Homo sapiens: one gene and its partners. The protein of the gene in region 3 binds, or shares a complex with, the protein of the main gene of each other region. Each region holds a gene or a part of one and is shown on either strand. Other genes may lie near its edges. The genes, in order: CACNA1E, CACNA1C and CACNA2D1.

Region 1 (11,668 bases), on a different chromosome or scaffold from region 3:
AGCAAGTGGAGGGAAGTGGAGAAATAATGACATGCAAACCAACAGACAAAACTATCACATTGAGGATATTTTTGTCTCTATCCTCAAGTCATTTCATTTCTGTCAAATTCCTTCACTCCAACTCATTTTTCAGGCTTCATCCCAATTATAAATGGTCCCCACAACAAGTCATGGCCTGGTTTCCACATGAAACATTACCCACACTTCATATCAAAAGCAAAGCCAACAGGCAATTCAGAGATTGTCCTGGGATGCTCAGAAAATGAAGAACTTTCTCCTACAGCTCCAGTACCAGCTGCAGTCACTATCTGTTTCACCATCTGCATCCACGCACAGGTACACAGAAGATATGAACCCCTCTGCATTATCTGATCATAGGATATAATTACAGACTTCATCCTTGTTAGCTGCCATCATCTTCCCTAATCAAGGCATCTTGACTCATGATTCACTAGTTACATCAAACCTGAAATTCTTACCGGGACCTCAGTCTACTATCCTGCAATGTGCTATACATTTATAGGCAACAAAAGCAGAAGAAAAGAAGACACCAAAATGGGAGATTTAAGAACTAAAACTTTTGGTAACCCTCACCAAAATCCTCCAAAATAAACGGACATTTTACAATGGGAGATTCACAGTAGTAAAGCATACAACCTCTGATCCATAGCCAGAGTGCTTTGGGGATACAGTGAAATTCTCTACAATAAGAAATCATGGATTAATGTCCACAGGTTCATTGTGATGAGCTTCATTATCTCAGGGCTGCAAACATATTTGACCTTCCTACTGTAAGCCATATTCATTTCCACACGAAGCATGTTCTCCCCTGCTGAGACAACCAAGGCGATGGAGGTGTGGGGGGAATATCCTATTGCCCAACTCTGGCATAGAGTCTCCAAGCCAGACACACTACTTCTTGCCTTCACACCCGTGACCTGGAAAAGTTCAAACAAGTGTGGGGCATCCTGCAAACCACATGAGAGATGCTGTATGGCCCACAGGGTAACTGGCCCTGGGCATGAAACAGTGAGAGCTGGTAAGCATGAGGCACGGTGAACATGGGAGGGCACTCAGAACAGCCAACTGCCAGAGAAGATCTATTAGATGAGCAAAAAAGAAAATGAAAACGAGGAATCGTATAGAATGTAACATCACATTTTAAATCACATTAGCATTTTTAAAAAGAGTATGGTATCCACTGCAGAGGAAAGTGCCATAAGAAAATAAAATTATCTCCCTATGCAGATGTAGCTTCCAAGAAAAATGAAACACATTCAGAGTAGGCTGTTGACTTGCCACCATCTTTCATGCCAAATCTGGGTTATCTTGAGCATTTCTTCCCATAAGAACTAGACCTCCCCTATTAATAACTGGATAAGATTACCCTCCCCCTCCAAGTCGGGGTGATCCTAGAAGCATAAATTAAACCATTCCTTTTACTTAACCAATCTTTTCAGACAAACATGATTAAAGACCAGTAATGCACAGCATGATGAGACCACTAATGCGGCACATAGAAGTGTACATTATCCCCCTCGTCCTACAGTGACTTTCTGCAGCCAATGAAAGTGTAAGTCTCAAAACGTGTTGTAACACAAACAAAATCCTCAAGCATGCTAAATGTGCAAATGTCAATATGAAAGCAGGTCTTGACATGTTTTCTGAACAACTGAACAACCTTCCTTTCTTAAAAAAAAAAAAAAAAATCTGGCACTTACAAAGAGCAAAGAAGTACTTCCTAAACTTTAATGAGCATATTAATCACACAGGGATCTCATTACAATGCAGATTCTGATTCAGCAGGATTGAAGTGGGGCCCAGGATTCTGAATTTTTAGCAAGCTCCCAGGTGATGTGGATGCAGCTCCTTGCTCTCTTTGAGAGGCAAGAATCTAGAGGACTTCACCTGAACTAAGACCCCTCCCCACTTCAGGCACGCTGAAATTTCTGAAAGATGCCATTAATAATAACAACTAGTGATTACTGGGTAATTAGATAATGTTTTAGGCATGTGATATATATTAAGTCATTTAATTCTCCCAGTATTATTATTATTATCCTCATTTAACAGGTAAGAAGACTGAGTCACAGAGTAATGAAGTAATTTTCAAGGTCAGAAAGCTGGTGAAGGAACTAGGATTTCAACCCAGGCAGCCTAGCTCCAAAGCTTTATGGGCAACCACTACCCAGACTGACTCCCAATAAGACAAAGCAAGATACTTGGGAAGTTATTTGTTTAGAAAGGAAAGGAAGGTGAGACTAGGAATTTAGGTGCGTTTCCCACGGAAGCCCAATGTTTCCACGTGGTCACCACCAGAGGGAATATATTAGTCAATTACATTGTACATGGTGTATTTTATATTTTCCAACAGGGCTCCACTAAACACCTTAGCAGATGTTCCCTGAACACTGTTACCACAGCCTACATGCTGTAGAACCACTGTGAAATTTCCAACTATGCAGACAAAAGAGACCATTGGGACAGGGCTCGGGGCCAAGGCACTGAGCATGATGCTGAAATCAACTCCCTCGAGAGTCTCCCGTTTGACTCTCTTTGGTCCATTTTTGGCCAAAGACAAGGAAAGGGAGGAGTAAGACTCACAGCCGCACCTTGCGCGCTCGCAACGCCTGGTGGAAAGGCGGTGTCTTTGCAGCGGAAGAGAAAACGTGAAAAAAGGTGACCACGTGGTGTAGGAAACGTGCCTGGTTTCTCAGCTCCAAGGCTGGGCCCGGCCAGAAGTACCCGAGGTGCTGAACCCGGGTAACTGGGGAGCCCCGGGCCGCCGGGAGTTTCAGCGGCGCTGTCCGAGGTGCCAACGATGGCTGCTGGCACACTTTGCCACCCGCGGGGCGGTTGGGCGGCTTTGTCTACCGCAAAGAAACGGGAGGGCGCCTGTCTGAATAAACACGCCCCTAAGAGAGGGGCACAGCAAGGCAGCACCTGGTGGATGGGAAGATTTAGAGAACCGTAGAAGCCGAGTGAGAAAGGAGGGCCCAGCTGGGAAATCCGTAGACTGCCTAGAGGAATATTTGCAGCCGCAGCACACAACACAATGAGATCTGTCCGCTTTGTGCAGCGCACCGGCAGGCGTGACTGCAGGGACCCGACCCCTCCCCCGCCCGAAACCTCCACCCTAGCTAGATACGTTCAACTCAGGCAATGGATGGCCTGGGATCACTCTGTGAGAGTGGAGCAGGGGAGCGGGATGCAGAGAGGAGAGAGGGAGAAGCCCAGCCGGGGTTGCTGTGGGAGGATGCGAACAGCAGCAGGAAGAATATCTGCTTAGAGATGCTCCTTCGTTTCTAATGAGGGGGTGCTGCCTAGAAGCACCACGCGCCAGCCAATCACCGAGCTGCTGAGGCAGGGAACTAGAGAAGAAGGGGAAGGCCAGAGACTGGGGTTGGGGGAGTAGGGAGATGCCCAGGCCCTGGGGGAAATGAGCCGCGTGTCTGGCTAATACTAGAGACCCAAGGCAGCTCCAGCTGCCTCACTGCTGCACACCTGGACGGTGGGGGTGGGAAAGAGGGAGAATAGGGGAGAAAAGAAGGGGCCTCCATTGCAGATGCATCCCTCCCAAATCTCCCTCCCAAAGTCCCATGTCTCCAACCCCATCCCCATATTTAACGCCAGACCACTAGCTTGCCTCCTACTAATCCCCTTCACTGCCTCACCACCCCCAATTCCCAATGGCCTTGCCAGGCGTCCAATCCTTAGTGAAGAACAAGGCAGTGAGCTGCCTAATCAGCAGTCTGCATTTGGTGCACTTGATTAAACCTGCAAAGAAGCTCCTTCCATGCCTGTTCACCCTGACACCACCACCATCAGAGATGGCCCCCACCAGTGCTTTGGGGAGAGCAGTTCCTTTGGAGCTAGGGAGAGAGAGACTGCATGCACACCTCTGGCCTCAGCGGATGAATTCAGGCCCAGCCGATCCACCTGGATCCTGGATACTGGGAGAGCAATCAGCTGGGTCAAGCACTAAGAAGCAAGAGTACCCAACCAAGGACCAAGGACAGGATGGGCCTGATGAGCTGCTCTTTCTTGGCTGAGAGGAGAACTCCAAGTTTGAGCTCCTTGGGCTGTGGCAACAGAGATCACCTCCCCTGACAGACACTCACTCATGCCACTTTCAGTGGAACTTAAACTTAAGTCCCTAGAGTTAGCTGAGTCCCCACCCAAAAGCCTGTTTTATTTATTCATTTGTCTATCTGTACACAGGGTTTTGGCCCTGGGAACTTCTGAACTGATAAATCCCCTCATGGAGCCTTGACTTCCCTACAGGAAGACAGTGCGGTGTCTCCTGGTTGGTGGGGATACGGGCAGAGTGGCTGGCTTAAAGAAAGGAAAATGAGAATTAATTATGAAAGGAAGCATTGGGGCAACCCAATCTATGTAGAGGGCGGCATGTGAAGGGAGTAGGGGTGGGGAGGGGGCTGGGAATCAGACAAAGCCCAGCCCAGAAAGGGATGCACCCAGGGACACTAAAGATTTCCACATAGGAAAAATAAAAAACCAAAAGTCTTACCTTGAAAAACACTAGTGCCCAAACGGGTCTCCACGGCACCAAGCTTGCCCCTTAGATGCACCGAAGAGTGTGCTTCAGCAAAGGGGCAAATTGGCACCAGGAAGGGGTGGGGGATACATTCCATGCTAGGTACCCCCCTTCACCCGAAGAAATGCAAAGGGGGAGAGGGAGTTATGGTGGGCAAGAAAGGATATGGCCAATCGATGAGCTTCTTGGCATATTTCCTGACAATGTTATCTTCTCCGAAGATGAACAGGGATCTGTTGACGGTGAAACAGTTCTGCCGGACGGGAATGGGGTTGTACAAAGCCATAGTCCGCGCCCTCTGTGCTTTCGTCTGCTTGTAGGCGGCCGCCTGCCCCGAGGCCGGCACGGGGGTTCCTTGCCGGTTCCTGCTCTGGTCCGAGTCTCCATCGCCGGACCCTGGCCTGGCGACCACCGCCTCCCCGAAGCGAGCCATCCTGAGGTTTAAACAGACAGAAGACACACAAAGGTGATCGCGGCCGAACACCCGCACACAGCAACAAGCAGAAAGACACACGGAGACTCAGAGCCGCATCCAGACAAGCACGGGGACCACCGCCTCTGGGGAGCTCCGCGAGCTCTTCGGAGAGGCAGCAGCAGCAGCCCGCCGCTGTGAACTGTTGAATCTAAATGCAACCTCTGCGAAGCTCCATTCCTCAAGAAGGAAAAAAAAAAAAAAGAAAAAAGAAAAAAAAAGCGGGTGGTAGGGCTTGGGGGTGCCCAGTTTCTGGAGGAAAATATTTTTTTCAAAATGCCAGTGTGTGGTGGTGTTCAGGGACCAGAGAGGAGAGGGGTGGAGTAGGCTGCTCTTCAAACATAGCTCCTCTTCTGGCAGACGCACCACCTAGTTCAGGGAGAGAGGCAGGCACCGGCCCGCTAGGTAACAGTTTGGTGATTTATTGGTTGGGGGAAGGGGTGGGAAGGAGGGGAAAATGAAAACAAAAGAACTTTAAAAAAAAATAAACAAAGACGAGGACGGGGTTACGATGACATGCTTTATAACGCCAGCCCCTGCAAGTCCATCTAAGAAATTCCACCGCGAAGACTTGGGTCTTTATATCTGCCAGCAGAGACGCATCCAAAGGTTGGAGAAAGAGGGAGGGAGGTGGGGAGAGCGATATTGAGGTTCCTGCGTAAACCGCAATGCCCAAAATCTCAAAATAAGAAGTCGATCCAAGCGAAAAGGGACAAATGACTTCAAAGCTCCTGCGCTTGGGCTAGAAGTTGAGCAGCATCCAGAGAGCAGCGAAGCCTGAGTGCCAGCATCCGCCCGGAGCGCTCGCCACCGCCGCCTCCCCGGATCAGCATGCAACAGCGATCCGCGGCTGCGCCGCCGAGAGGGCGGGAGTGCGAGCGGGCGGGCGGCGAGCACCGGCGGGCGAGGAACAGGTTGCAGCCGAGCCTCGCGGCGGCCTGGCACCACACTTGTCCACAGACCGAACTTCCTCACTAACGGCTCAGTCTCCCTCTTCCCCGCAGGCAGCGCCCTCGGCGGAGCACTGGAGAAGATGCGGAAGGAGAATGGGGAGGCGAGGCAGAGGACAGCGAGCGGCGCGCAGAGGCGCAGCGAGGCGCGCAAGAGCGCTGGGAGAAGCGGGGGAGGAGCTGGCCAGGCGGGAGGGGCGGGGACGCAGCCGGAAGGCTGGAGGTTCCTGGAAGGTGAGGCTGGCTTGCCTTCTTGATTTATGTGGCCAAAGGGTAGCAGCCACCTCTGCAAAGGTCCAGTGAAGAGTCCCCTTTCCCCCAAGTAATGCCGAGAAGAGAGAGGCAGGTGCAGCCAGCGATGCGGCGGAGTCTCCGCAAGAGAGCGAGGGCCTGGCGTGGGGCGCACACGCACGCGCGTCTTGGGTCCCTGCAGAGAGGTGTCCCCAGTGCTGTGCCCTGTTCGGTGCCGGGAGCGGTGCCACGGGCCCGCCGCCGCCCTAGTAAGGTGTCGGGGCCTTTGCGCGCCTAGCGCCATGGCCGCGTCGCCGCTCCTCCGCACCTCCCAGGCTCCACGAACACGGCCAGGCATTTCCAAGTAGAGGGCAGAACCCTCTCCCCATCTCCCCACTTAGCACCTGGGAGGCCCCGTGGAGGAGGCTAGGACCTCTGGGGGTTCCACACTCTGCTGGTGGTGCTGGCTCCTGGCGGGAGCTTCTGCCCTCACGGGGCGGCCTCCCGGTTCCGCTGTAGGAAAGCCCTGCCCGACGTCTCCTGGAAGGGCCCTCCATGGTGAGTTATGGGCTAAAACTACCCTTCTCGAAATGCGAACAATCAGAAGGATCCTCCCGCCCCCCATCCTTTACTCCCAAATAAGCTCCACGGACTTTCTCAAACCCAACCCATTAATGTAGAAAAAAAAAAAAATAGAATTGGTATCTGAGCTGCAGAGGTGGGAAAGGTGGACTCCAAGCCCCAGGGAAAGAGCTCCTGTTTAGCCGCCAAGCCCTTCCCCACAGGTGACTGGTGGTTTGAACTGAGGGCAGGGACCAGCTGTCCCCTCCCATGTCCACACTAGCTGGGGCACACCGTCTTCTGTGTTTTCCTGCCTTGGCTCAACACATAGGCCTCTCCAAATCCTTCCAACCCGAACAATGGAAGGGAAGAAGGAAAGGAGGGGCTGAGGAAGGAAACAGACACTGACCAAAGCCCAGAGGTTGGAAACCATGGGTGAGTATGGCTTCACGCCTGTGAAGTGAGATTAACTGTTGAGAAGTGAGGTGATGTCTGAGTGCATGGCATGTGTGTTTCTACGGGTATGTGTCTGTCTGTGGGCAAGGCCCTGTGAGCACTGACATGTGTCTGTTGTGTGAGAATGTATGTGAGAGTGTGTGTGTGTGTGTGTGTGTGTGTGTGTGTGTGTAGGAAAATTCTCTACTGGAAATCCAAAGGAATGGTCTCAACATGTCCAGCCTGCTGCCCTTGGGGAAGGCATTTGACCTTTGGATTCAGGGGAGCCCATTTCAGGTGAAATTACTATTCAAGGTGAGTCAGCTGTAATTGTTACTTTGATTTCACATTACTGCCTTACTCTGTCCTTCCTCCTGCTTTAATCAGAGGGTCCTCTTCTGTCTGAATACCTAGTCAGTCGTGAAACGGAGGGAGGGTGGTGCTGTGAACCATGAAGTCCCATCAGCCAGTCACTTAGAACTAGTCCCAAGTGGCTATCTCGGTATCCCTGTAAACTACATAGGGTTAGAAAAAGGGCTTTCAGAAATTATTAAGTGTATGTCGCTCCTTTCAGACAGTACCATAATCCATAGCACAAAATTCATTCAAATCATTAGAGAAGTATCTTTGAGTCCCTTCCAGGTGCCAGGCACTGTTTTAGGCACTGAGGATACTATAATGAACAAGATGGGTGATGACATAAATCATGTAGCTTTTTACACTAGATTATACTAGATTGTATAACCTTGCAGGCCAGAAAGCTTCATGAACTTCACTCTCATGCTGTCACCTCACCCCTTTCCTTTGTGGTTCTGCCTCAGCAGGCTGGCGGCATACCTTCTCAATGCCCAGAATAAGCAGGGCTCACTAGCCTTTTACTTCCCAGACTTAGTTCTTGGAACATCAGAGATCCCCGACTTGTCTCTTCAGTGTTATCAGATGTCAGCAGAGATCCAGTATTCCACGTCCTGTATTCTCTTTGGCTGTTGTAATTCTTCAGAGACCTAGAATACTCAAGATGGGATACTACATGTGCAAATGCGACGACACACTGGAGTTGATATCTGCCTTCTTGCCTTCCAAGGAGACAGGAATCATAAATGCATAGGTTGGGAATTAATGTGGAATACCTTAGGGAGTTTCAGCACCTATGTGAGTTAAAAGGGATAATTCTTGGAGGGTGCAGCCAAAAAGGAAAGGGGCAAACATAATGGCATAAATGGCTTTGTGAAGAGACTTGGCCTAAGGGCAGCAGTGCTAGCAGGAAGACAGACTCTCATCTTCCACCCCCACCTGGCTGTCATAGCTCTTGAGAGCTTTGAGATCTATGAATTTCTATACTGGTTTCATACTCTCTAATCCCCCATTCTACCAGCCCCCAAGGCAGCTACAGTTGTTGTTTTTATTTTTTTTTATAGAGACGACGGTCTCACTATGTTGTCCTAGCTGGCAACTCCTAGGCTCAAGCAATCCACCTGCCTCAGCCTCCCAAAGTGCTAGCATGAGCCATTGCGCCCCGCCAGTGGCTACAATTTTAATGGTTGAATAATACATGTGTTTAATAGTTTTCAGTTTACATAAGCCCCACAGCTGAGCCTGACTCCAAACTTCTGAGGTGAGCCTGGTAACACATGTATCACGACCCTTGACAGACAAAGCAGCAGAGTTTCAGCAACGTTAAGCCGTTTGCCCACATCTGATAAGCGGCAGAGTGTGGACTTCTAACACATCTGACTTCCAATCTGCGGCTCTTTCTAAAACCCATGCTGCCCTTCAGGACAGCAATAGGGTAATTCTAAATTGTTTATCAAGAGAAGAAACTATACAATGACACTAAGCCTATGGAAATGCTATGCTTACCATCCTCAAATTGAATTTGATCAGAGGCCAAGTGTTCCTGGCACCATGCCCTCAATATCCAGGAGGATCCTCAGAAAAAGTTCATGACCAGAATACTGTAGTCATGCGGTATTGCATGACTTCATATGGGAATTTCTTCATATGGGAATTTGGTGGGCATTCTCCTTCCAGTGCCCCGAGTTCCACTGTCCTATTAAGGATCCACAAATGGAAATGTGGAAAATTAGCAATTAGTCATAACTCTGATTGGAAACCAGTCTGAAGACCATCTGAAAATCCCTTTCCAGTCTCAGAGGGACAGTAACTGTATTTTCCTGTTGTCAGAGCACCATCTACTGGTCACTGAGCACGAGTGCTTGGCAGCCCAGCACCCCATGCACCATGCCTCAGAGCTTAGATATTCCTAGGCTCTGACCTCTTGTCAACAGCCCTCTACTCCCCTATGGGACTTTGTTGAGGTACTAAATTTCACCACAATGCAGCCAGCCCATCTCACAGTAGTTGGAAAGTGCAGCCCCACACACACCCTCCCAAGTTAAGATGGGGTTACCAAATGCTCCACATGTTTTTCTGAAAGCAATGACCTGCAAAGTGGAAACCCAACAGGAGCTAAGGAAGCAAGTGGAAAACTTTCCTACTTTATAAAGCCCATGAAGACTATTACATTTCAAAGCATTTATCCTGCAGCCCCTCTACTGCAGTGTATCATCGAGCTGCAATCAGGTGTGAAGGGGACTGGTAGGTAGTCCCTCCAGCCTCTTCTGGAAAAGGCAGAAAACAAGGTGTCCACACTGCCCCAGATCAGGCAGCCTGTGGGAGTTTGTACTAAGACAGATGGACATGAGTGGCAAAGTTGGAGAAGCAGTTGGCCTATTACCCTCATTCTTAAGCTCTTCCCAGATCTGTCAGGCCTTGGGCCATCTTCATAAGAGATTTTTCACCCATCACTGAGAAGTCTGTGAATGTGGGCTTCATCCAAATGGCCTGTGCCCCTCCCACCAGGCCTGCTCCTTCATCTTCCCCCACCCTGCCAGTTACACTCAGATAGCTTATGCTTAAGTTATCAGAGCCCCTTTTGTTCTATTTTTCCTCCGTTGAGCTTTTCCAAGAAATAGACTCTTATGCAAAGCAGTGCTCTAAGGAACATAATGCAGAGAGGATTTGGGAGTGGGTTCTTAAGAAAAAAGTTGGCAGGAGACCATGTGCAAATGCATAGTGGAGCAGAGGAGCATTATGGCAATGCAGACATCTTGGGAGTCTGGTGGCTTTCACAATACCTCACAGCCCTTACTTGGGTGAAAACATAACTTCACATCCTTATGTAATGTCCGTCCCTAGAATCAGCATCTCTCAAACCTAAGCCTGAGAAGCCCCACACTCCAACATGCTATCAGCTAACCACAGGTCAGCAAAGTTGGTTTTAAAGTGTTTTAAAAACCATTCATTTATGACAACCCATCACTTCCTGGGTGCCAACCGTAATGTTTTCTCATTGCATCTTTGCAGAAGGACTGTGAGGCACATCCTGTTATCTGAACACCCAGAGAGTCAGGGACTTGTCCAAGTGCACAGAGCTAGGAAATAGCAGAGCTGGATCTCCTAATAATAAGGACAGGATTCTTCACAATATGTGACCATTATTAACATACTGCATGTCAAAATAATATTTTCCTTGCTTAAGAGTCAAGTTATAGGCAGGATCTTGAGCTTTAGAGAGGTAAGGCATGACCTTGAACCAGAGAGTCTCCCAGAGGGTTTAATTGTTAAGAATAATACCATTCTGCTCCACTGGGCTGTTGTGAAAATTAAGTTAGTTTATATGCATAAAGCTCTTAGATCAGTACCTTGCACACAATAAGTATGTGCTACGTAAGTACTTGTTATGTACATTTCACCTTCAGTAGCTGTGACCACGGTAACACACTGGAAACACTGCATGTCTACAGACTCTGTTTCTGAAAGCCAACTTCAGAAGTGCAGCCAGGGATGAACACACTCTGTTGTGCGGGGGATGGACAGAGGAGCAGAGACATGTAAGTGCCTGAGATCAGGTCAGAAAGAGGAATGGAGGAAAAAAGGAAAAAAAAATAGTAGAGACCAGTGTCTGGAGACCCAAAGGCCATGATACCTGAGAGAGCTGTGTGTTTGTTTACTTATTCATGAATTCATAAACCCATTTAACAAATACTCATTAATCCCCTTTGATGAGCCACACATTGTTCTCAGGGATTCTGGGGCTCAGAGATAAATTAGACACAGTCATAGCCTCTAAAAACTTACAGTTCAAAAGAGGAGAAGGGAAAACATACCCACAAAGGGCTCGAATACAAGGCGGGATGTGGAGTGCACCACAGGAGAGTACTGGGAGACAACAGAGCAGGGAGCCATCCCCTCCCACTGGAGGCAGCTGGAAAAGGGAAGAATACAAAAGAGATCTCTTTGAAGAGCTAGTTTATTGGAGGCATGGAGCAGCAGCCTGCAGCATGAATGTTTAGGATGTTTTGGGGGGTGGGGAGGGGGGCAGTACACAAGATGCATGGAGTTAATTAGTAAATCAGCATTTTTATTTTCTTTCAATGTATCTAGGATCACGAAGATTATAGC
Region 2 (9,133 bases), on a different chromosome or scaffold from region 3:
GGTTTTATCTACCTTTGGTCTTTGATGATGGTGACGTACAGATGGGTTTTTGGTGTGGATGTCCTTTCTGTTTGTTAGTTTTCCTTCTAACAGACAGGACCCTCAGCTGCAGGTCTGTTGGAGTTTGCTAGAGGTCCACTCCAGACGCTGTTTGCCTGGGTTTCAGCAGTGGTGGCTGCAGAACAGCGGATACTGGTGAACTGCAAATGCTGCTGCCTGATCATTGCTCTGGAAGTTTTGTCTCAGAGGAGTACCCGGCTGTGTGAGGTGTCAGTCTGCCCCTACTGGGGGGTGCCTCCCAGTTAGGCTACTCGGGGGTCAGGGACCCACTTGAGGAGGCAGTCTGCCCATTCTCAGATCTCCAGCTGCGTGCTGGGAGAACCACTGCTCTCTTCAAAGCTGTCAGAGAGGGACATTTAAGTCTGCAGAGGTTTCTGCTGTCTTTTGTTTGTCTGTGCCCTGCCCTCAGAGGTGGAGCCTACAGAGGCAGGCAGGCCTCCTTGAGCTGTGGTGGGCTCCACCCAGTTCGAGCTTCCCAGCCGCTTTGTTTACCTAATCAAACAACTAACTCGGCAATGGCGGGTGCCCCTCCACCAGCCTCGCTGCCACCTTGCAGTTTGATCTCGGACTGCTGTGCTAGCAATGAGCGAGACTCCGTGGGCGTAGGACCCTCTGAGCCAGGTGCGGGATATAATCTCCTGGTGCGCCGTTTTTTAAGCCCCATGGAAAAGCGCAGTATTAGGGTGGGAGTGACCTGATTTTCCAGGTGCCGTCTGTCACCCCTTTCTTTGACTAGGAAAGGGAATTCCCTGACCCGTTGCGCTTCCCAGGTGAGGCGATGCCTCGCCCTGCTTTGGCTTGCGCAGGGTGCGCTGCACCCACTGTCCTGCACCTACTGTCTGGCACTTCCCAGTGAGATGAACCTGGTACCTCAGTTGGAAATGCAGAAATCACCCGTCTTCTGCGTCGCTCATGCTGGGAGCTGTAGACCAGAGCTGTTCCTATTCGGCCATCTTGGCTCCTCCCCTAGTTTTTTTTTTTTAAACATCTTTAAGAGAGTTGTTTTAAACTCTTTGTCGAGTAGATCTGCCATCAGGTCTTTTCTAGGAGCAGTTCCTGTTAATTTATTTATTTTTCCTTCGAATGGGCCACACTTTCCTGTTTCTTTCTTTGCCTTGTGACTTTTTGTTGAAAACTGGACATTTGAATCTAAGAATGTGATAACCCTGAAAATCAGAGTTTCCTCCTTCCTTAGGGTTTGGTGGTGGTGTTTTTGTCTTTTTTAGGCCACTCAAGCATCGGCATGAGGTGTAAACTTCAGGTCTTCTTAGGTGTTTTCTGAGCCTGTTTCTTTCCCAGGGTATGTGCAGTCACTTTCTAATTTTCCTTGTATATGCAGTTGCTTTTGAGTGTCTTAGTCTTTAATGTCTGTCTCCCAAAGAAGGAAAAAGAGAAAAGTGAAGGGGGAAGAAGGGTGCTGGTTCTTCAAATTATCTGGAATCACTTCAGCTAGTGGTGGAGGGGCTTGCAGCAGTGGGGAGAGGTGCAACAAAAGTAGCTGCCCACCTCTGTGTTTGCACCTCTGTGATTAGAAGCAGCAATAAGTATCCTGAACAAAGATCCCTGAAATTTGAAGAACAGGATATTTTTAGCCCACTCTGGCCTCTACACGCTGTGTGCAAGGTGCTATTGGACAAGTGCTCAGCTGCCTGTATTATGAGATAAATAGTACTTTCTCATAATAATAATAGGTTCTGCTGGTACTATTTCCACCCAAGGAAGTCACACTGGTTATCTCTTCATGCCTGTCTATGCAGTGCTCACCCTTCCAGGAGTAGAAAGTGGGCTAGGGGAGGAGAGTGGGTTAGCTGCTACTGTACTAAGAGCTGAAATTGACCAAAATCAACCTTGATTTACTGTCCAAGCCTCCCCCTGAAAGTTGCAAACCTTCATTAGACTCCAGAGTTTCAAAATATTAATAGTTAAACAAAACAGATTCTGCCAGTGTATTTGTTGTCTATCGGGGAGGATTCTTGGTGCTCCTTACTCTGCCATCTTCCCAGAATCCTCTGGGACAAATTATTTTTACTTAAGGGGTTATTCTGAAAGGTTTATCGAAATCAGATTAAGTTATAATAACAAAAAAAAAGAAAAGCAATCTTACATTTGTATAGTCCTCATAGTACTTTATATATTATCATATCTCCCCCTCCTTTCTTCTCTCCTACATTCCATCCCTCTTCCCTTCTGTCCTTTCAAAACCAATTTCAGAGACTGCTTTTCCTGTCTAATCCATGTGAATTAGCCATTTAATTCCTCTGATTTTGTCTCCTTTTTAACTTTTGGCCATTTTTCTGTCAACTCTTTCATGAGAAGGAAGAAATAGGGGATGGGTTAACTGCTGAATGGACTTAGGTATTATCATTGGATTCATATTTCCTGTGTTCTCTCCAGTCTTCTTCCTTTTGGGGATCCCAGACAGTTGAGATAACTGAGTGAAGTTTGTATTTGTGACCTCTAGGAAACAGGAGAAAGGAAGAAATAAGGAAGAGGGAAGATACAATGAAGTCAATGTAGACATTGTTAAGAAATTTATTTGCAATTCTTATTTTTTGTGTTTTTTGTTTGTTTTTTAAATAACATCATTCCTTAGATAAAAATGCAATCTTACAGGAATATACAATAGTGTCTCACACAGAGATGACCCTGAAGCTCTCCTTGAAGGGTTGCCCCTTCTAGATTCCCTGGCCTTTCTCGAGGGTGAGAAGGCCCATCAGGCGAGGCCTCTGACAATGGGATTATTTGAGGATTACAAACTGTACAATGATATTTACAACAGTAAGACTGTGAAGTCGTGGAGCCTGGAGGGGAGGGTGTGGGGGTGTGTAGGGGTGTGGGGAATGGTGACAACGGAGGCACTGCCCATCTTTCTGTGCCTCTCTGATAACAGGCATGATACAGATTGGTTTGGGGGATGAAGGTGGGTTTGAGCTGGAGGACATGAGGGAAGGGGAGATTAGAGGAGCTTTATCTGGAGCGTTTCACAGGAGGAAAGTTTTGCATGGTAGCTCTGGTGGATTAAAATAAAACAGCAATATTATGAGAGTAATAGACCTTTCAGTGCTTCACCAACGGGGAATCTGTCGCCCTATTTCTTAATGAATGTGCGTGTTTTGCCATGGGTTATTCTCATCCACTACCATCACAGACTTGTCCAGACATGCTCATCTCTGTTTCCCATGGCCTCACTCCCACGAGGCTTGGGGGAACAGCATGCATTCTGGCCAGGACAGGACATGGCAATGGGGTGGTATATAACCTGGCTGGGATTCAAGAGATGGATTTCAGGTGTGGGTATGGGCTGCAGCTGGATGCATAGGTGGCCTGAGGCAGGAAAAGAGAAGGTGCGCACAGCTTTGGGATGCTGGAGACACCTCCTGAAGGGGATCTTTCTGCACAGGACTGTGTGTTTACAAATCATCTTCCCTTGATGTACAAGTTCTTTCCTTTTCCCCTTTTAAACATTGGTGTAGTTTCTCCATATTGGGAAGTCTTGGGGTTGGGGGCTATGTCCAGGACCCAGTGACCCACCCTCTTTTGCTTCTCTTGTGACTCTACAGGAGAGACTTCTCTTTTCTCCTGGCCAATGGCCAGGAGAGGTTTCTTCAAGGGGGTCCCTGAAACCTGCAGCCTCAGGTTCCTTGGCAAGGGAGCCACTGCTTGGCCTGGTGCCTGCTCACCTTTTTTTCCTTATTCCCTTGGTAATAAACTTGAGATCTCTAAGATTTCCACAATGGGAATTCTCCAGACCCAAACAGTGAATAAGAATCATTCTGTCCATTTCTGCATTTCCTCACATAGAAATGACCCTCTCTTAAAACTTACAAACTCTTCCACCCAGAGCTTTTTTTTTTTTTTTTTGGATAATGACCTTGGTTTGAGGTGCATGAGTGAATTTTAGAAATGAATGTACAATGTATGTCTGATTCACACCAGGGGAAGTGGCACAGTGCCCTTTCTGGGATCCCTACAAAGTCAAATTCCTTAGATCCTGAGAAGTGGAGTGCATGGGATGCCCTGAAAAGGTGGGGGTGTCCCTGTGTAGCAGCCAGTAACTGATCTGAAGGGAGAGGACTTGGCTCTGGTGATGTAACATTTCAAGCCTCTGTGTAATTACCTAGTCTTAGTCTTTTCTTCCTCATTCTTAGTAGAGACGTGGGGAACTTTCATGAAAAATGCTAATTCTGACTCCTCTCAGCGTGCAACAGATTTGTTACACTTCATCCACTCAGCTGCAAGATCTAGAGTGCTTTCAGAGGTGACTGGAAGAGTTCTCTAATACCCTACAAAGACCATGGATCTTTGCCACTTCAGGTGCTGTGGCTCAAACCTCTTAAAGTCATCCCAGGAAAAAGTGTTGATTGTAGTATTCTCTCAATGTATGTAAATAGAATTTATGTCATAATAATAGTAGGTTCTGATGGTACTACTTCCATCCAAGGGAGTCACTCTACTGCACCCTCCTTGTCTGTGTATACAGTGCTCACCCTTGCAGGAGCAGGAAAGTCCCTCATCTAGAGCTCAACCCCAGCCCTTGTGCCTTAACGGTGTGTGTCTGTGTAGTGAGGGGGGTTGTTCAAGCATCCCCCGTCAATGTAGAGATGTGGCAGAAACCCGTTCACCTGTTGTATTGGTATCTGGCTCCAGAAAGAAAAGTTTCATTGCTTTGACATAAGAATAAATTGATGAATGAAGTTAAACCCAGAAGAGGCTTCACAAAGAGGTCGTGTAAGCATCTGCCCATGGGACTCCCTTCCACGCACCGTCTTTCTCACTAGGTGTTGGGGAGGACAGGGAGCTGGGGCTGGGGAGGGCAGTGGGAAGAGGGAGCTTTGCTTAGGGACAGGGAAAGGTGCCCCATTCCTGACAGTTGTAGGACTTTTCTTTCCCTCCTGTCTTCCCCCTCAACCTCCTCAAATCGTAGCCTCTGGAGAACCTGGACTCTGGCGGCTGAGGGCCTCCCTGGGAGTGAGGTTTGGGCTTCCCCGCCTGTCTTTGCACAGCAGCCTGTGTCAGGTGGCACCTGGACAGCCTGAGGGGAGGGACATCAGCAGAGGGGGGACAGGGTGGCAGACACCCCCACATCCCACCAGGTAGGCTGATGTGGCTGGAACAACACCCCCAGATGGAATGAGTACTCTTCTCACCTTCCCAAATAGATCCTTGAGATGTCAGCGGCTCCACCACACTGGTCACTGTGGGTGGGTAAGCTGAACACATCCTTCCATGAACTGGGAAGAGGCACAGAGGGAGTCAAAATATGCCCTTTTCTTGCCTCCATTCTCCTCCCAGTCCTCTCTGTGCTGACATTTGCCCCAGAGGCAGGTCTTCTTTAAAATATGGAAACGGCCCAGACTCCATCAGCAAGTATTTGCCTCCCCTGGGGTTTAAAGAGGTCTTCTGGGAGTCAGCAGGCCCTTTTTGTGGCCTCTTTGCTGAATTGTTTCTAATCCTTGACAATGATATTTCAATTCTTGGCCTCTAGGGATGGAGATGCCATCATCCTCCTTTACCACCTTTCCCACGATGAGGCTAAAAACCCCGATGACCAGGGTTCCACTCTATCCCTGACCTACATTCGTGTTTTCTTTCTTTGCCTTTAGGAGTGGTGGCTGTGTATCTTCAGGACTCCATAAAGTAGCCACCATCTTTTGGGTGACTTCCAAAGTCCTCATTTTCTAGGTGTCACTGTTGCTCAGGAGATGAACTTGGGCATGGAAAGGTCTGCTTCTCCTGAGGTTGCCCCACTGTCTTCAGCTGCATGGGCAGGAGACATGCTGGGTGGAGAAAAGCTGGGAGAAAGTAACGGGTAGCTTCACTCCAGACAAGCACCTGGAATTTGGAACTGGGAAATAGAATGAGAGACATTGCCTTGTTCCTTTGAGTGGATTTCCCAGTGAGAGTGAGGCCTATTGGATTAAGAAGAAGGAAAGGGGTTATAACTAGTACCTTCTGAATCAAAGCTGGGAAAAATTCTCCAAGGTCTGGAAATGAAAGAGGCAGGGCTGGTCGGAGGACAAGAATTAAGTTGACCAAACTGCAGACCTTAAACTGTTGTTTCTTCAAGTCCCTTGGGCCCTTAGCCCCTGACTGTTTTCTCCTGACACTTGGGGGCTGTCAGGAGGGGTATGGAAGATGTGACAATTATGTTTTACAAGGTCATGGGGAAAATTCCATTTTAGGTGGAGAGTAGACATCACTTGGAAGATTGTGCTGTGGTTCATTGATGTCACTACTTGTGCCAGTCTGTTCTGATGACAGGCATCATACGCCAGTCTTATTCTAGTGGATCAGAAGGTCAAGCTAGGATAGTCCTCCTGCCCTAGACAGGGAACGCCTGTGTGTACCTCCTGGTAGAAATCTTGGGAACTTTTCAAAGGATGATACCTAAACTCAATTTCTAGAGGACCTTGATGGCAGTGAAAAGGAATCAAGAAAGTTTGGATGACTTGGGTGTGGATATCCATAAAGAAACTCTGTTTCTAGACTGTGTTAACCGGGGAGTATTGAGTACATTTCTCCACTTTGTCATGAATCAGTCCAGCAAGCTGTCATAGAGGAATGGACTGTCCCTTATTGTAATTTCTAGCTTACTTATATATGTGCCAAGAGGGGCTCAGGGAACACTAGGACTGGAAGAGATTTAATGGGTCAATTCTGGGTGAATGGTTGGGTCCTGTTTTCCCCAAAGCAGTCCCTTTTCAGCCACCACTGTTGACATACATTTGAAGGACACAGCACCAAAAGAGTGATGTTCTAGGGAGATATAAGTGAGCATTAGAGATGCCCCCACAAAAATCTGTTCCCACCCCCACTGTGAGCTCCGGATGCCTCTTCCCTTGTCCTGGCCCCCTCCCCGGCAGCCCAAACATTAGGGCAAGCCTGAAGGAAAGGCTGCTCCAGAGTGAGGAAGGGATGGAGAAAGGAGCACGCAGAGTTGACTTTCAGATGGATCAGGGTTTCACCAGTTCCTTTCTCGAGCCCCTGCTGTCCTTGTTGGGTAGAGCAACAAGAATCCGGAAGTGAGGATGCCCCTCCCTCCAAGCAGCCTGACTTTAATTTTATCCTCCCGGTTAGTGTACACTTTCCTAAGGAAGCCAAAGAGAAAATTCCGTGTGGTGGAAGGGAAGGGAAAGCCAGCTACCTCTTCCATGGGGGATGCGGATGACGGCCCAGTGACTGAGGGCTCATCAGAACGCCTCCCTGCACCTCACAGTGAAGGGCTGTTCTTGGAGAAGTACCAAATCAGATGACCAGAGCAGAGTGGACAGAGTGAAGACTGGAATAAAATAGGTCCTGGTCTCTCACAGCAAGAGGCGGTACAAACATACCCAGCAAACGATTTTGGAAAAATTGAGGGAAATGTAAGCAAACACAAGATATGCAAAACAGTAATGTCCAAACCTGTTTGTGGAGAGCAGAATAATGACTACACTGGTGATACCTTTGCTCATTGTGCAAACTAAAGAAAACTTGTTCCCTTTCCCCCAACCACATATAGAAAAGCACTTGAGTTCAAAGGTAAAGCTTGTCACACTCCAAATACAAAATGATTTACTTTACATGCAGCAAAATATACAAGAAGTGAATCCGAAAACCAACTTAATTCAATTCATTATATTCGCTTGGCACAATTGCAATTCAGTTTTAAAAAAATATTTGAAAAATACTGAAACTGACCTGAATTCAAGTATAACGGTTTCTTCAACAGAAACATTATCAATGCAATAAAACATTACACGGAATATATTGAAGCAAAATGCCTTCTTGTGTTTTTCCCTTAAATTTCTGTCTTTTTTTAAAATACAGTTTTAATGCCAACACAACTCACAATTGTATTTTTAAATGAATATTATTGCATTGTTTTTGCATATCTTGTGGGACAGAAAATGCAAAGAGTTACTGATTCCCGTTTCAGAAGCAGAGACAGTGGTTTGTTTTTGCTTTCAAACGGCCCCAGATTCAGATCTTCCCACAGCTAAACCAGAAAGGGGGGACTGCGTAGTCACTGGTGTGCACGGGCACATGGTGTGGGTGCATATACACGGGCAGGACATATGCACACAGACAACCCACCACACACACACGCGTCGCACACACTCGGAGACTCTCTCGCGCATGCTCCTCTCTCCCAAACCCACCTGTACACCCAGCATAAAAAGGAACCCAACTCTATCACCCACATGTGCAAGACCACATCAAGTGCATTGCCAGTTACCTTTCCATTAGATAACCGAACCAAACCAGAACAAAAATAGGTTACTACCTAAGGAAATGATAACAAATTATTGGGCATACACAATGGTTGGTAAAACTCTCCTGCAGCGGCTTCTATTGAACCTCCGTGGAAAAAGGAAACCACAACCGTTTAAATAATACAAGAAAACCAAACCCGATGTACATTGGCAAAAGTGAAAACAGAAAGGTGAGGGGGCTACAGGACTTTGTAAACACTCTTCTTCCTCCCCTCCCGCTGGGAAAGCAAAATAAAACATTTAAAAAAAACCAAAACCGAAAAGAAACTGCAACATGCTGTCAAGAAAAGTGTCAAACCACAAAACAAAAGAGCGCTCAGCGGAAGCTCAGCACCACCTGGTTGGGCGGAGCCGGCGGCGCAGCTCCTCCCTCGCGCTGCCTGCGGGCCGGCGGCTGGCCGGGAGCTCGGCGTGGCCCGTGCCGGTCGGGGGATCCCGTCGCAGGTGGGCAGGGACGGAGTGAGCCGCACCACTGCCGGCCCGACGCCCATCCCCAGAGCTCCGCGCCCCTGGAGGCCTCCTCCTCCCTCTCCGGGCCGGGTTGGGGTCCTCCTGGAAGTCCTGCCCCGCTCCCTTCTCCAAATCCGCAGGGCCCTGGCTCTAGGGAGACAGCGAGGCTCGTACAGAATATGTGCAAATGGTTTCTACAAGCAGAGTCGAAAGACACCCGTTTGCTGTAGGGTCCTTTTGGTGAGGGCGCGCGGGAAGCCGGGGTGCTCTCCCCGCGGAGGCGCGGCCGGGCCCGGGGCCTGCGAGCTGGGAGAGGGCAGGCGCCTTCCTCGCGCCCCGGGACCCTCGCCGCCTCCTCTCCCCGCCTC
Region 3 (10,669 bases):
TCAGTTTTTTGTTTGTTTATTTGTTTAGAGATGAGCCTATGTTGCCCAGGCAAGATTTGAACTCCTGGGCTCAAGCGATCTTCCTGCCTCAGCCTCCCCAACAGCTGAGCCTACAAGCGAGCCCTCGCCCAAATTCCAGTGGTTTTTTAATCTTCTAGAGTTTACTGTTTTCTTTTCTTGACAAGGATCTGTTTCGACCAAAACTTCTCCCTTCTACTGGGGGCAGGAAGCACCAATAGAGTGGGGCAGTAAACCACTACTATCTGCTTAAAATTAATGAATAAGTAATGCTCAATTGCCAAAGGAAAGAACTATTTGTTCTTTTATCTGTTTCTTTTTCAATGATATTACTGGAAGATCTTTCTACCACAAGCACCACACACTTAAAATCTAATGACATCGGCTGGGTGTCGCGGCTCACGCCTGTAATCCTAGCACTTTGGGAGGCCAAGGCAGGTGGATTGCTTGAGGTCAGGAGTTCGAGACCAGCCTGACCAATATGGTGAAGCCCCATCTCTACTAAATATACAAAAAAGTTAGCCGGGTGTGGTGGCGTGCGCCTGTAGTCCCAGCTACTCAGGAGGCTGAGACAAAAAAATCACTTGAAGCCGGAAGGCAGAGATTGCAGTGAGCTGAGATCACACCACTGCACTCCAGCCTGAGTGACACAGTGAGACTCCATCTCAAAAAAAAAAAAAAATTCTAACGACATGTTATAAAACTACATGAATCTTTAAGATGATAATCTCTCCTAGGAAAGAAGTAAATGAAAAATAAAGACAAGTGAGAACCAAATGTTGCTGTGTCCAAAGGTAATATAGTGGCAAACTGGAGTCTTGTTACTACCACTGAAAGAAAAACTCTAGTCCATTCCTCTCAAAATTTGAATATTACTAATGTGTATGTATTACATTTCTGAATTATGTCATTCCTTCTTGAGAATGGAATATGTAATTTAAATCATTCCTCTAAAAACATCTCCAGTAAATTAAAATTATATCTATCCTGTATTCCAACCATCTGCTTTAATTCTCAAGGCTGTTTCATATTTCAAAAGTTACTTTGTAAGACATTGTGTTTAGTCTTGATCCCTTCCTCACCTGCCTCTATCAGAACATTCATCCATCAATCATGGCATCTCATTGCTTTCATCTCTCTGACATTTGGTCTTCTCCCTCTGAGATACTGGAATCTCCCTTCTGGTAACACTATTTAGTTGTCTGTACAGCCTTCCACACCTTCCCCACCCTTCTCACCAGAGCCTTTTTCTGAGAATCGGCTCTTCCCCTATCCAGGGTAATAGCAACTGGCCTTTTACCATGTAATACCTCCTAAGAAGACTGGACCAGATATGGTGAACTAACCCAAGCTCAGGCAACCAGAGTCTCTTTTCCAAATCCCATCTCCTGGTCACAATTAAATGGACTGTAAGTGGCCATCTGGCCCACATTCAGACTGTCAACACATCTTCTTTGGGAGGTTATCTTTAGGACTAGAATTCTACACTCAAGCTGGTTCAAGGCTTCAAAGGAGAAAGCATAATCCCTCGCAACCATTCAACACCATGAGCACTGGAGGCAGATAATGCCAATTTATAGAGAAAGAGAAGAAAGAAGTGACACAAAGAAAAGCAGAAAATGACTTGAGAGATTATCATGATAGCAGTCTCACCTTTTTCTGCAGTTGTTGGAACATCCTTGACCTGAACTCCCATGATGGATCATCCAGCTCCACTACCATTTAAAAATATTTCTCTTTTTGGTTTAAGATAGTCCTATGGTTTTGTACAATCTACAATCCCAAACGGCCTAATATTAACTTACTATTTATTGTTTTTTCTTAACTTTTATTTTTAAGTTGAGGGGTAAAAGTGGAGGTATGTAACATAGGTAAACTTGTGTCATAGGGGTTTGTTGTACAGATGATTTCATCAGCCAGGCATTAAGTCTACTTAATTAGTTATTAATTAAGTACTTAATTAAGTACTCATTAGTTATTTTTTCTGATCCTCTCACTCCTCCCACTCTCCACCCTCTGAAAGGTCCCAGTGTGTGTTGATCCCCTCTATGTGTCCACGTGTTCTCATTATGTTGTTCCACTTTATAAGTGAGAACATGCAGTATTTGGTTTTCTGTTCCTGTGTTAGTTTGCTAAGGATAATGTCTTCCTCTGAATTTACTCTATTATCTCTCACTTTCCTCATGTCACCGAATTCCTGGAAGAAACAATCTGCACTTGTCTCCATATTCTCAACTTGACCAACTCCTCAAGCCACTGAAACCATGCTTCTGTCCCTGACACGCTACTTAGACTTCTTTCTTTCATCAGTGGCCTGATGACTTCCTTTAAGGGGTCATCTAGTTTGACCTCTCCACAAAATGAAACTGTAAATCAAGGCCCTTCTTTTGAAACTCAGTGTCTATCTTAGTAGATTATAGATAAATATGAGTTAAATAAATGAAAAAAATCCTTCTTCTGCCTTCAAAAGTATTGCTCTCTGAATTTGTCTCCAAACTCTCTTCAGATACTTTTTTTTTTTTTTTTTTTTTTTGAGACGGAGTCTCACTCTGTCACCCAGGCTGGAATGCAGTGGCACAATCTTGGCTCACTGCAACATCCGCCTCCCGGGTTCAAGTGATTCCCCTGCCTCAGCCTCCTCAGCAGCTGGGACTACAGGCGCATGCCATCACACCCGGCTAATTTTTTGTATTTTTAGTAGAGATGGGGTTTCACCGTGTTAGCCAGGATTGTCTCGATCTCTCCTGACCTCATGATCTGCCCACCTCGGCCTCCCAAAGTGCTGGGATTACAGGTGTGAGCCACCATGCCCGGCCCAGATACATATTTCTAAGGGCCTAACAGACATCTAAAAGACACTGCAAACTCCAAATGTCCAACGATCAACCTACTCCCACTCTCACAACATCAACCTGCATTCCTCCTGTGTTCTCTAGCCTACAAAATTTAATGACACATGATCTACATGTTAGAGATCTAAAAGTCATCTCCAATTCTTCTTCCTTTCCTGATTCCCCAAATCTCACAACCACCAAGTCCTGAAATTGTACTTCTACTTCATACCTGCTTCACCTTCTCACTGCCACTAATCTTTTTGAAACCTCGGGCATCATCTCTGGTTCAGTGAATGCTGCAATGGTATACTAACTAGTCTCATTGCCTCTGCCTAATATACTGGCCCGCCTTAATCCATCTTCTACATATTATGATTCAAACCTATTACTTTTTTTTTTTAATTTAAAAATCTCAACAGCAACACAGGATAGAAGACCAAATTTGTGTTGGTACACCAAACAGGGCTATTGCAAATGTCGATGTAATATGAGCACTGCTCATCCCCTCCTTGGGTCAGGATGCAAGAAATTTATAACCAGACTTAAGCCAATAGCTACCAACATCACTTCCAATTGACAAGTCCAATGCCTAACAAAGAACAGACCACGTTTCTTTAGACCATGCCCCTTCAGTATGCAATGTACTTTTTCCTTGGTCATGCTCTGATGTATCCCAGTGTTCCATAGTCAGCTTGGAGTTGCTAATGTTTTCCTTAGGGACTCTCTTCCCTCAGTTTGTATTCTCAACATGTAGCTCAGCGCAGTACGTAATTTGCACTGAATAATAATCATCATCACGTTAATTGTTGAATTAAATTATATTTGGTGTTAAAAAATATTTGAAACAAGAAATATTTAAAAAGGCAATATAAATTAAAACAACTTCAAAAATAAAATGTACTATTTATTTAGAAGCCTAGTTTTAAGTATACTACCTAGAAGGCTGCTTACCTGCAAGTTATTTCTTTCTTGTAATCTAATGAAAAAAATTTTCTAACAGAATTTCTTTCTTGTTGATTAGCACTTAAGCTCTTAATTAAATGTTATACTAGTGTTTCTTATCCAATAAACCATTTCCCAGAATTTCATAAAAACTAAGAATTTTTAAGTACTTATGTTCTGAGATCTAGATAATTTTATTGTCTTTGGTCTCTAAGGTGAATTTCCAAATGTGAATATTTAAGTCTCTAAAAATGATTATTATGTTTAGGAAGCAGCATTTCCAATATAACCAAGCTCATATGGGAAATGAAGAAAACAGAAGCATTAAGAAAAATAACCAACTGCTACCTTTAGTATCTTTAATGTAATTTTGCACCTCATAAATCTGAGGGCTCTTCTCTCTGCCCCACTTACACATCCATCACTCCTCAGAGTATTTTCACCACAATGCCTGTTGCTCACTTTTTAAAAACAAGAGATTTTTGCAGTCTGCCTGAGCCCATTTATTTCATTGCACCATCCCTCTTGTAACTCTCAAAATATGGCATTATTAATATTTAACCATCCCTTCACATAGTTTGACAGTATGCACCTTAGAAAAATTTTATTAGCTCTTTCCCCTCTTTTCCCTAATTATCCCTAAGGTATTGGGCAAATATCAAAAGAAACAATTCTCTAGACTTGCTTGACAACTTTGGTATGTGTTGATTACATATTACAGGTTTATCTGTATATCAAAATCCCTCAACAATTTCTCTTAGAGAGAAATGTCTGGTGATAACAGGAAATCTGAAACAGGGAGCACAGATTGAAGTGAAAAGGACCTGAAATTGAGGTCTGATCATGGGTAACTTAAGAGAAACACATTTTAAAATTTTTCATTTGATTTGATGTTATATACAAATAATAATGTTATGGTTAATAGTAATTATATGCATGTGTATGAAAGAGAGAGAAACCAGAATTTATTATTTGAATAAAATAACATTGGAATTGCTTTCCATCATTTGCCAGAAGACCACCATAGCGTATTTTTAATTACACAGAAAAAAAGAGCTTCAAATAGACAGTAAGATTATCCCCAAATCTGAAGCATTTAAAATGGCCAGCACCATTATTTTCTACTGCCACCAGTTCAAGTTTTTCTTCCATTTATGATACAGAATTTTAAATGTATCCTAATTTTTTAAATCCACAGAGCATATGGTTAAAAAAAATCAGCAGAAGCAAATGTTAAAATAACATTTAGCCAGAAATATCCCACATTCATATTCAAAGAGAACTTCAAATATTGCTTTATATATAACAGCCTAATTCTGAATTATTGAAATTAACTATAAAAAGTGTGCCGGTTTGTTGAGGCCACAAAGTCAATCTTTTCCTCGTTCATAACCTGTACAAACAAGTGGCAAAATATAAAGGAGCAATGACCGCTTTCTTTACTCATTTTTAAAAACTGCTAAGAGTAGCTGATTCTATGTACTGAATTACTACAAAAGATGTAAAGCCTACAAAGAAGGGATATTTAAGAGCTTATATTTTACAAATAAAAATTTTAAACCTGTGCACATTTGCCTTCATTCCTAAAATATCACACCACCAAATATGTTTAATTCTAAATTTCAAAGTATATCTTATCTAAATGAAAGAAATAAAACTGCTTAGTATGTAAAGAACTTTTAATAGGTGCCAACATTTCAAATGGTATAGTTTCTTTCTCACACTTGTTTAAAAGACAGCAAAACTGTCTTTAGAATCACTTTTTTAATTACTTGTCAATTATGTTAGTAACCCGTCTCTATAGGACTTGAGCATTTTCAGGCTGCTTGTGTATGCAATATCTCATTTAATTGTCTTGGCAAATCATTCTTAAATGCTGGTGTTATTAAGTTAGATTTAATCCCTGAAAACAGTTGTGGACTGACAGAAGACCTAAGGTATGCACACTTGTTAATAAACTTACCTTACTGAGGTTTTTCTACTCTGTCAATCCACTTAAAGTTTTAAAAATATGTATGGACATACACACGTATATATGTGTATTTGCATATACATAAAATACTATCTATTAAATAGAATACTATATAGTGACACAAACTAGGAAAGTTATCTAATTATACGATGTTAATATTTTGGACTCTCAAGGAAAAGGTAGTAACATAGTATTTTTTCACAAAGTGCTGCCACTTTTACTTAATTGACATTGAGGTCAATTGCCTTTTTCTTTCAACTCTGTAAACAACACTACGCAATCGTTTACATGTTTCAGTGCACATACAAAAAAATGAATCCTGTGTAAGCTACATGGTTGGCCATCACAGCCCATTCCTAGTTTACTGGAAAGCAACTGTATGAAAGCCTTGGGAACAGTCGTGGTACTGCTCACAGATAGTTCATGAAAAGAAAGACTGGTTGACACAGTTAGTGACACAGTGCTTGATGCACACTGTAAGCCTTAAGTAAATGTGGAGGCGATATAATAGAACAAAGTTTGTTCCCCATGGAAAGCAGCTGACCTGCTTTTTGAAACACTACCACAGACAGCTCTTTTAATAGAAATAATGGACCGTTGTCATTTTAATAACAATAAAATGTTACTTTTTTGAAATACTGAAATTCTGATTTTTTTCCCAAAATGTTATGTATACTTACGTTAGAAATGCTTATGTCCATACATATAAGACATTAAATGAGATCAACAAATTGCATGATTTGCCTAAGATATGTTTCATTTTACCCATTTAAATCTCCAATTTAAAGTTATAAATAGCTTGAAGACATGTGCTAGGAAATTCTTGGAAACTTGCATCTATATTGAGAAATAGGGAAATCAAGAGAAACCTTAAGAGGTGCTTTATATAATGATACTCCAGAGAATATGTAAATTATATAGTTTGTTATGAGCACTATTGTAAAAATTATTTGTAAAATTTCTCAATGCATTATTGTTTATGAATATATACTCCTATATATACTAAATTTTAGCACAATAATAATTTCCATATGTTATGTTTTTGTAAAAATTTACTATGTGTAAACCCTAGAAAGAAGAGTATTTTATTGTTAGTTTTATCAATGTTGGAGAAATAACAGAAAGATGTCTACACAGTCAGTTTGTTGTGAAGAAAACAACTGTAAAGCTCTTATCTATTGTCAAAATGAACCACCTACTTTATATTCAAATTTTATGTATATTTATTAAATTAAATTAATGAAAGCCATGGGAGGGGGAGATAATAAAGGCACATTTCATTTCCCTTTAATAAACCATAATATGCTTAGATTCTTGTATTTTCTTACATTTTTTTCAAAAATTATATCCATTTCAGTCTGCTTAATTTTCATTCAAATGCCAATCCAAATAGCTACACATATAGCTATGTGTAACATTAATAAATTTAACATAATATTACTACTTACGTGGAAAAATATATCTATTGTTGCATATTTTAAAACATACATCTGTGGAATAGTAAATGTTATATGGTTAAGCCGATGAGAACAAAATTAAAGACTTGAGAAAAGTTTATTAATGTTCACTGTTTCAGGTTTTATTTTACATTTAATATTTTATCTCATAATTGATCATATGGCACATTTCCTTGTGTATGTAAAATGTAAACAGAAACTGCTGACTTCAAGTGAGAATAATTATGTCACTTATAATGCATGGAACAGATATCCATTACAATATCCTGACATACAAAATTTCTCCTTTATAGCCTTAAATACAAATTTCTCTAATAACAGGAAAAAAAAATATCCTAAGTAATTAAAGCCAAAAGTACTATACTTCTATGAGAATTTATGCTTATTTCCTGTGGATATCCACAATTCTTAGTTTTATATTTATACCATTGTACACTTTATATTAAAATCCCTGTATACCAATAGGCTCTCAGCCAATTATTGTAGACTGACTGGCATTTTGATGTGACTGAGATAAAAGTTTGATATTAACAGTTATAACTATATATTTTTTAATTGCATTTGTAAATAGATTCTAAAATTAAGGACAAATTTAAATTACCATTATAATACTGGCTATCACACATGTAATTCTAAATATTAAAATAGAAGTCTTTTAACATGTGACAAGAAATTATTTCTAGAAAAACGGACAACTACCCTTTTTGAAAGCTACATTTTAAAAATACCAATACGACATGTGCATACTATAGCATAAAAATGATATATTTTCCATTTATATATCAACCAATACACATTATGTGGCTGCTACCATATCATGTATTTATGTTTCACACCTTAGGGAGACAAACATTTCCAAAAGAAACACCTAACCCAGAGAAATAATCATATCAAAATTTCCTTGTCTGAAAAACATCTATTTTAGTGTTAACTCTTAGAACAGGTTAACTACTACTTTAATCCAAAAGAAAATTTATATTAGAATGTATGTTAAACAGGAGAGCAAAAAATGAAAGAAGATACTTAACTGACACATCATTTGTTTTACCATAATAGAATTTAAGCCCTTCACACAAATGTAAACACTCTATATTTTTAAAAAAAAACTTTGAACTACTAATTCTAATTGAAGTCCAACTCCAATTAGTGCATAATTAATTTTATAGTGTGTGATGGCATGCTCTTCCTCTTCAGCTGATAAAAACTTCTTACATTACTTTTTCTGTGAAAAATGAAACTGGCAAAAAAAAAAACCCAAAAATATTTACTAATGATTCCGAGAGAAATTTACATACAGAAGCATAATAATTTGCCTTTATTGACACTACAGTCTTTGCACTCAGTTTTTATAAATTTGAAATTTTCCCCCAAAGATTTGAGATTTGTCCTGATTAAACAGTGCATATGAATTCTTTTCTCGAAAGAAAAGCAAATGGCACATCTTTATGAAAAATATTGCATTTTTTAATTTCATAAAGTTTATTCAGAAATCTAACATGAAGTACAAATGTCAACCATCAGTTCTTTCCTCAGAAGACAGTGTTACTAACTTTTCAAATGAAAAACTGAAGATGCAGAAGGCTTCCAAAAATATTGTTAAGATTACCTACAGGAGATTGACTTCGCTCCACAAAACCTTTTATTAAGTATTTCATTCATTAAATAATCAATGTCTTATATAATTTGAAAATATCTTGAATTTTCATCGTTAAAAAAAATTTCAGATCCTTCCAAAGAAAAGAAATTGTGATGTCCTACTTCCCATTTTAACCCACTATATATACTCTTTCTTGTGTCTAGTAAATTTCTGACCATGAAAATTGATTTACTTATAATTTTAGGAAAGCATTATTGCAGATGTTCTTCTTAACAATAAGGATTTTTACATTAATATTTTACCACAGTATGTTGAGGAATAAAAGGTTGTATTTTGTTGTAGTTTTCCCCAATGGTATGATGATGTATCCCCTCCCATGATAAAAATATTGATAAATTGTCAGTTAAAAACAACACTGTAAAAATGAGTAATCGGAACACATTTAGGAAGTGATTGTTTTTTAAAGAGCCACTTATTTATTTGACACAGAATGCAAGCGACTCATTTGAGTTCTCACTTTACAGGCCAAGCAACAAACAGACTTAAAAAATTAAATGGAAGTGTGATGCCTTAATAAGAGTAAATAATTCTGAAGCATCCTTAGGGTGATTCTTACTCTTTTTATGTTTAAAAATATCTGACTGGAACATCCTGCCAATTAAACGAAGATCTCCAGATGGCATTTACCCTTTTGCTTCATAACAAAAAGGATCTGCAATCAGTTTTATGGAAGATTATCTAAAGAGGAACATTACTGTAACTCAATGACAACAAAAATTAGACACTCCCCTTCTCCGGGATAGAATGTGCATCCTCCAGATTCTTGCACTGACACCTAAGGTAATAAATACTTAAAACTGAATCTTAAATAATAGCCGCAGGATTTCAACCGCTAAAGATTCACTGTTACTTTCCACCAAAAACTCCTGTATTCAGCACTCAGCCAACAAAGGACAGCAAGTAATTCCCAGCAGCATAAATACCGGGAAAGCTACCTTGGGCTTTGTTTTTGTTATGTAAAATGCATTAAAGTGACTCATCCACTTAAGATTACCTACCTTTAGAAGCTTTAAAGAAGCTCCAAGAACCAAAATAAATGCTTTCCCAGAATGCCGGATAGGCTATTCGGTGCATTAAAAAATATGTATATATTTATATGTGCCATTGAGTTTGATTCTATTTTGCTAAGAAAGGAGAGAATTATTATTTTTCATTCCCTTCCTGTGGTGTGACTATAGCTACCTATAAGCCCTCTATTTCCAGAACAGCAGCGAGGTTTTTAAAAGTTATTTTAGAAATGGTAAAAATAAAAGAAAATTTGTAGGAGACTGGAAATAGTCCCTCCTTCAAAGAATAGGCTCTATTCATTTGAAGAACAGGGACCGCGTGTCTGCCGACACTTAGATGTTTCAAATAATGGGTTGGGGAGGTTGGATCGCGTGGTCCCAGTACCTGCGAGCCCCCTGCGTGGACAGCACGCTCGGCCGCGGGGAGCCAGCACGCGTCTAATCGGAAGGCTGTCAAGTGCATCCAGTAACGTGGGATAAAACGAGTTTGGGCACTACAGCAATTAAAGAGCATCTCCGAGGCCAAGTGCGGGGGAAGTCCACGCTACCTCGGCAAGCCTGAAATTACCTGTTTGTAAATTACCCAACCAAAACATAACTTTTTATTGAACTGGGTTGAATCAGAGCGGGTGAGCTGGCTGGAAACTTTTTTCCCCAGTACGGCTGCACTCTGAAGTCTAGAGAATCCCGTTAGAGACGGGCTGAGACGCCGCGAGTCGTCGGCGGGCGCTTCCCGGGACAGTCGGCCCCCAGTGCCCGGCCCCGTGGAGGCGCCCGAGACG

The links.
Region 1: the proteins of CACNA2D1 (region 3) and CACNA1E are in contact, whole or in part, in a cryo-EM structure (PDB 8EPM), measured with the Homo sapiens proteins. Residues at the interface, in NP_001353796.1 of Homo sapiens: Thr170, Asp171, Tyr173, Ile233, Leu235, Ser261, Gly262, Ser263, Ser265, Gly266, Leu267, Lys270, Ala327, Lys328, Gly329, Ile330, Thr331, Glu366, Gln391, Asn393, Tyr394, Ile416, Gly417; in NP_001192222.1 of Homo sapiens: Gln110, Leu112, Pro113, Glu114, Asp115, Asp116, Lys117, Pro119, Arg122, Asn630, Phe631, Asn632, Asp633, Gly634, Ile1330, Gly1331, Asn1332, Val1334, His1336, Met1341, Val1343, Arg1346, Arg1393, Ser1394.
Region 2: the proteins of CACNA2D1 (region 3) and CACNA1C are in contact, whole or in part, in a cryo-EM structure (PDB 8WEA), measured with the Homo sapiens proteins. Residues at the interface, in NP_001353796.1 of Homo sapiens: Thr170, Asp171, Tyr173, Ile233, Leu235, Gly262, Ser263, Ser265, Lys270, Thr274, Ala327, Lys328, Gly329, Ile330, Glu366, Gln391, His392, Tyr394, Ile416, Gly417; in NP_955630.3 of Homo sapiens: Phe147, Pro148, Glu149, Asp150, Asp151, Ser152, Asn153, Ala154, Asn678, Lys1090, Gly1091, Asn1092, Tyr1093, Ile1094, Tyr1096, Gly1099, Val1101, Pro1104, Ile1106, Arg1109, Tyr1156.

The regions. Positions count from the first base shown.
Region 1 is NC_000001.11:181,477,065-181,488,732, reverse strand, and holds the start of CACNA1E (voltage-dependent R-type calcium channel subunit alpha-1E), read right to left. Parts: upstream 5,217-11,668; 5' UTR 4,990-5,216; coding exon of another isoform or gene 4,989-4,989; coding exon 4,723-4,988; intron 1-4,722. UniProt on the Homo sapiens protein: Voltage-sensitive calcium channels (VSCC) mediate the entry of calcium ions into excitable cells.
Region 2 is NC_000012.12:2,691,392-2,700,524, reverse strand, and holds the end of CACNA1C (voltage-dependent L-type calcium channel subunit alpha-1C), read right to left. Parts: 3' UTR 2,575-9,133; downstream 1-2,574. UniProt on the Homo sapiens protein: Pore-forming, alpha-1C subunit of the voltage-gated calcium channel that gives rise to L-type calcium currents. Mediates influx of calcium ions into the cytoplasm, and thereby triggers calcium release from the sarcoplasm.
Region 3 is NC_000007.14:82,432,503-82,443,171, forward strand, and holds part of CACNA2D1 (voltage-dependent calcium channel subunit alpha-2/delta-1 isoform 1 preproprotein), read right to left. Parts: intron 1-10,669. UniProt on the Homo sapiens protein: The alpha-2/delta subunit of voltage-dependent calcium channels regulates calcium current density and activation/inactivation kinetics of the calcium channel. Plays an important role in excitation-contraction coupling.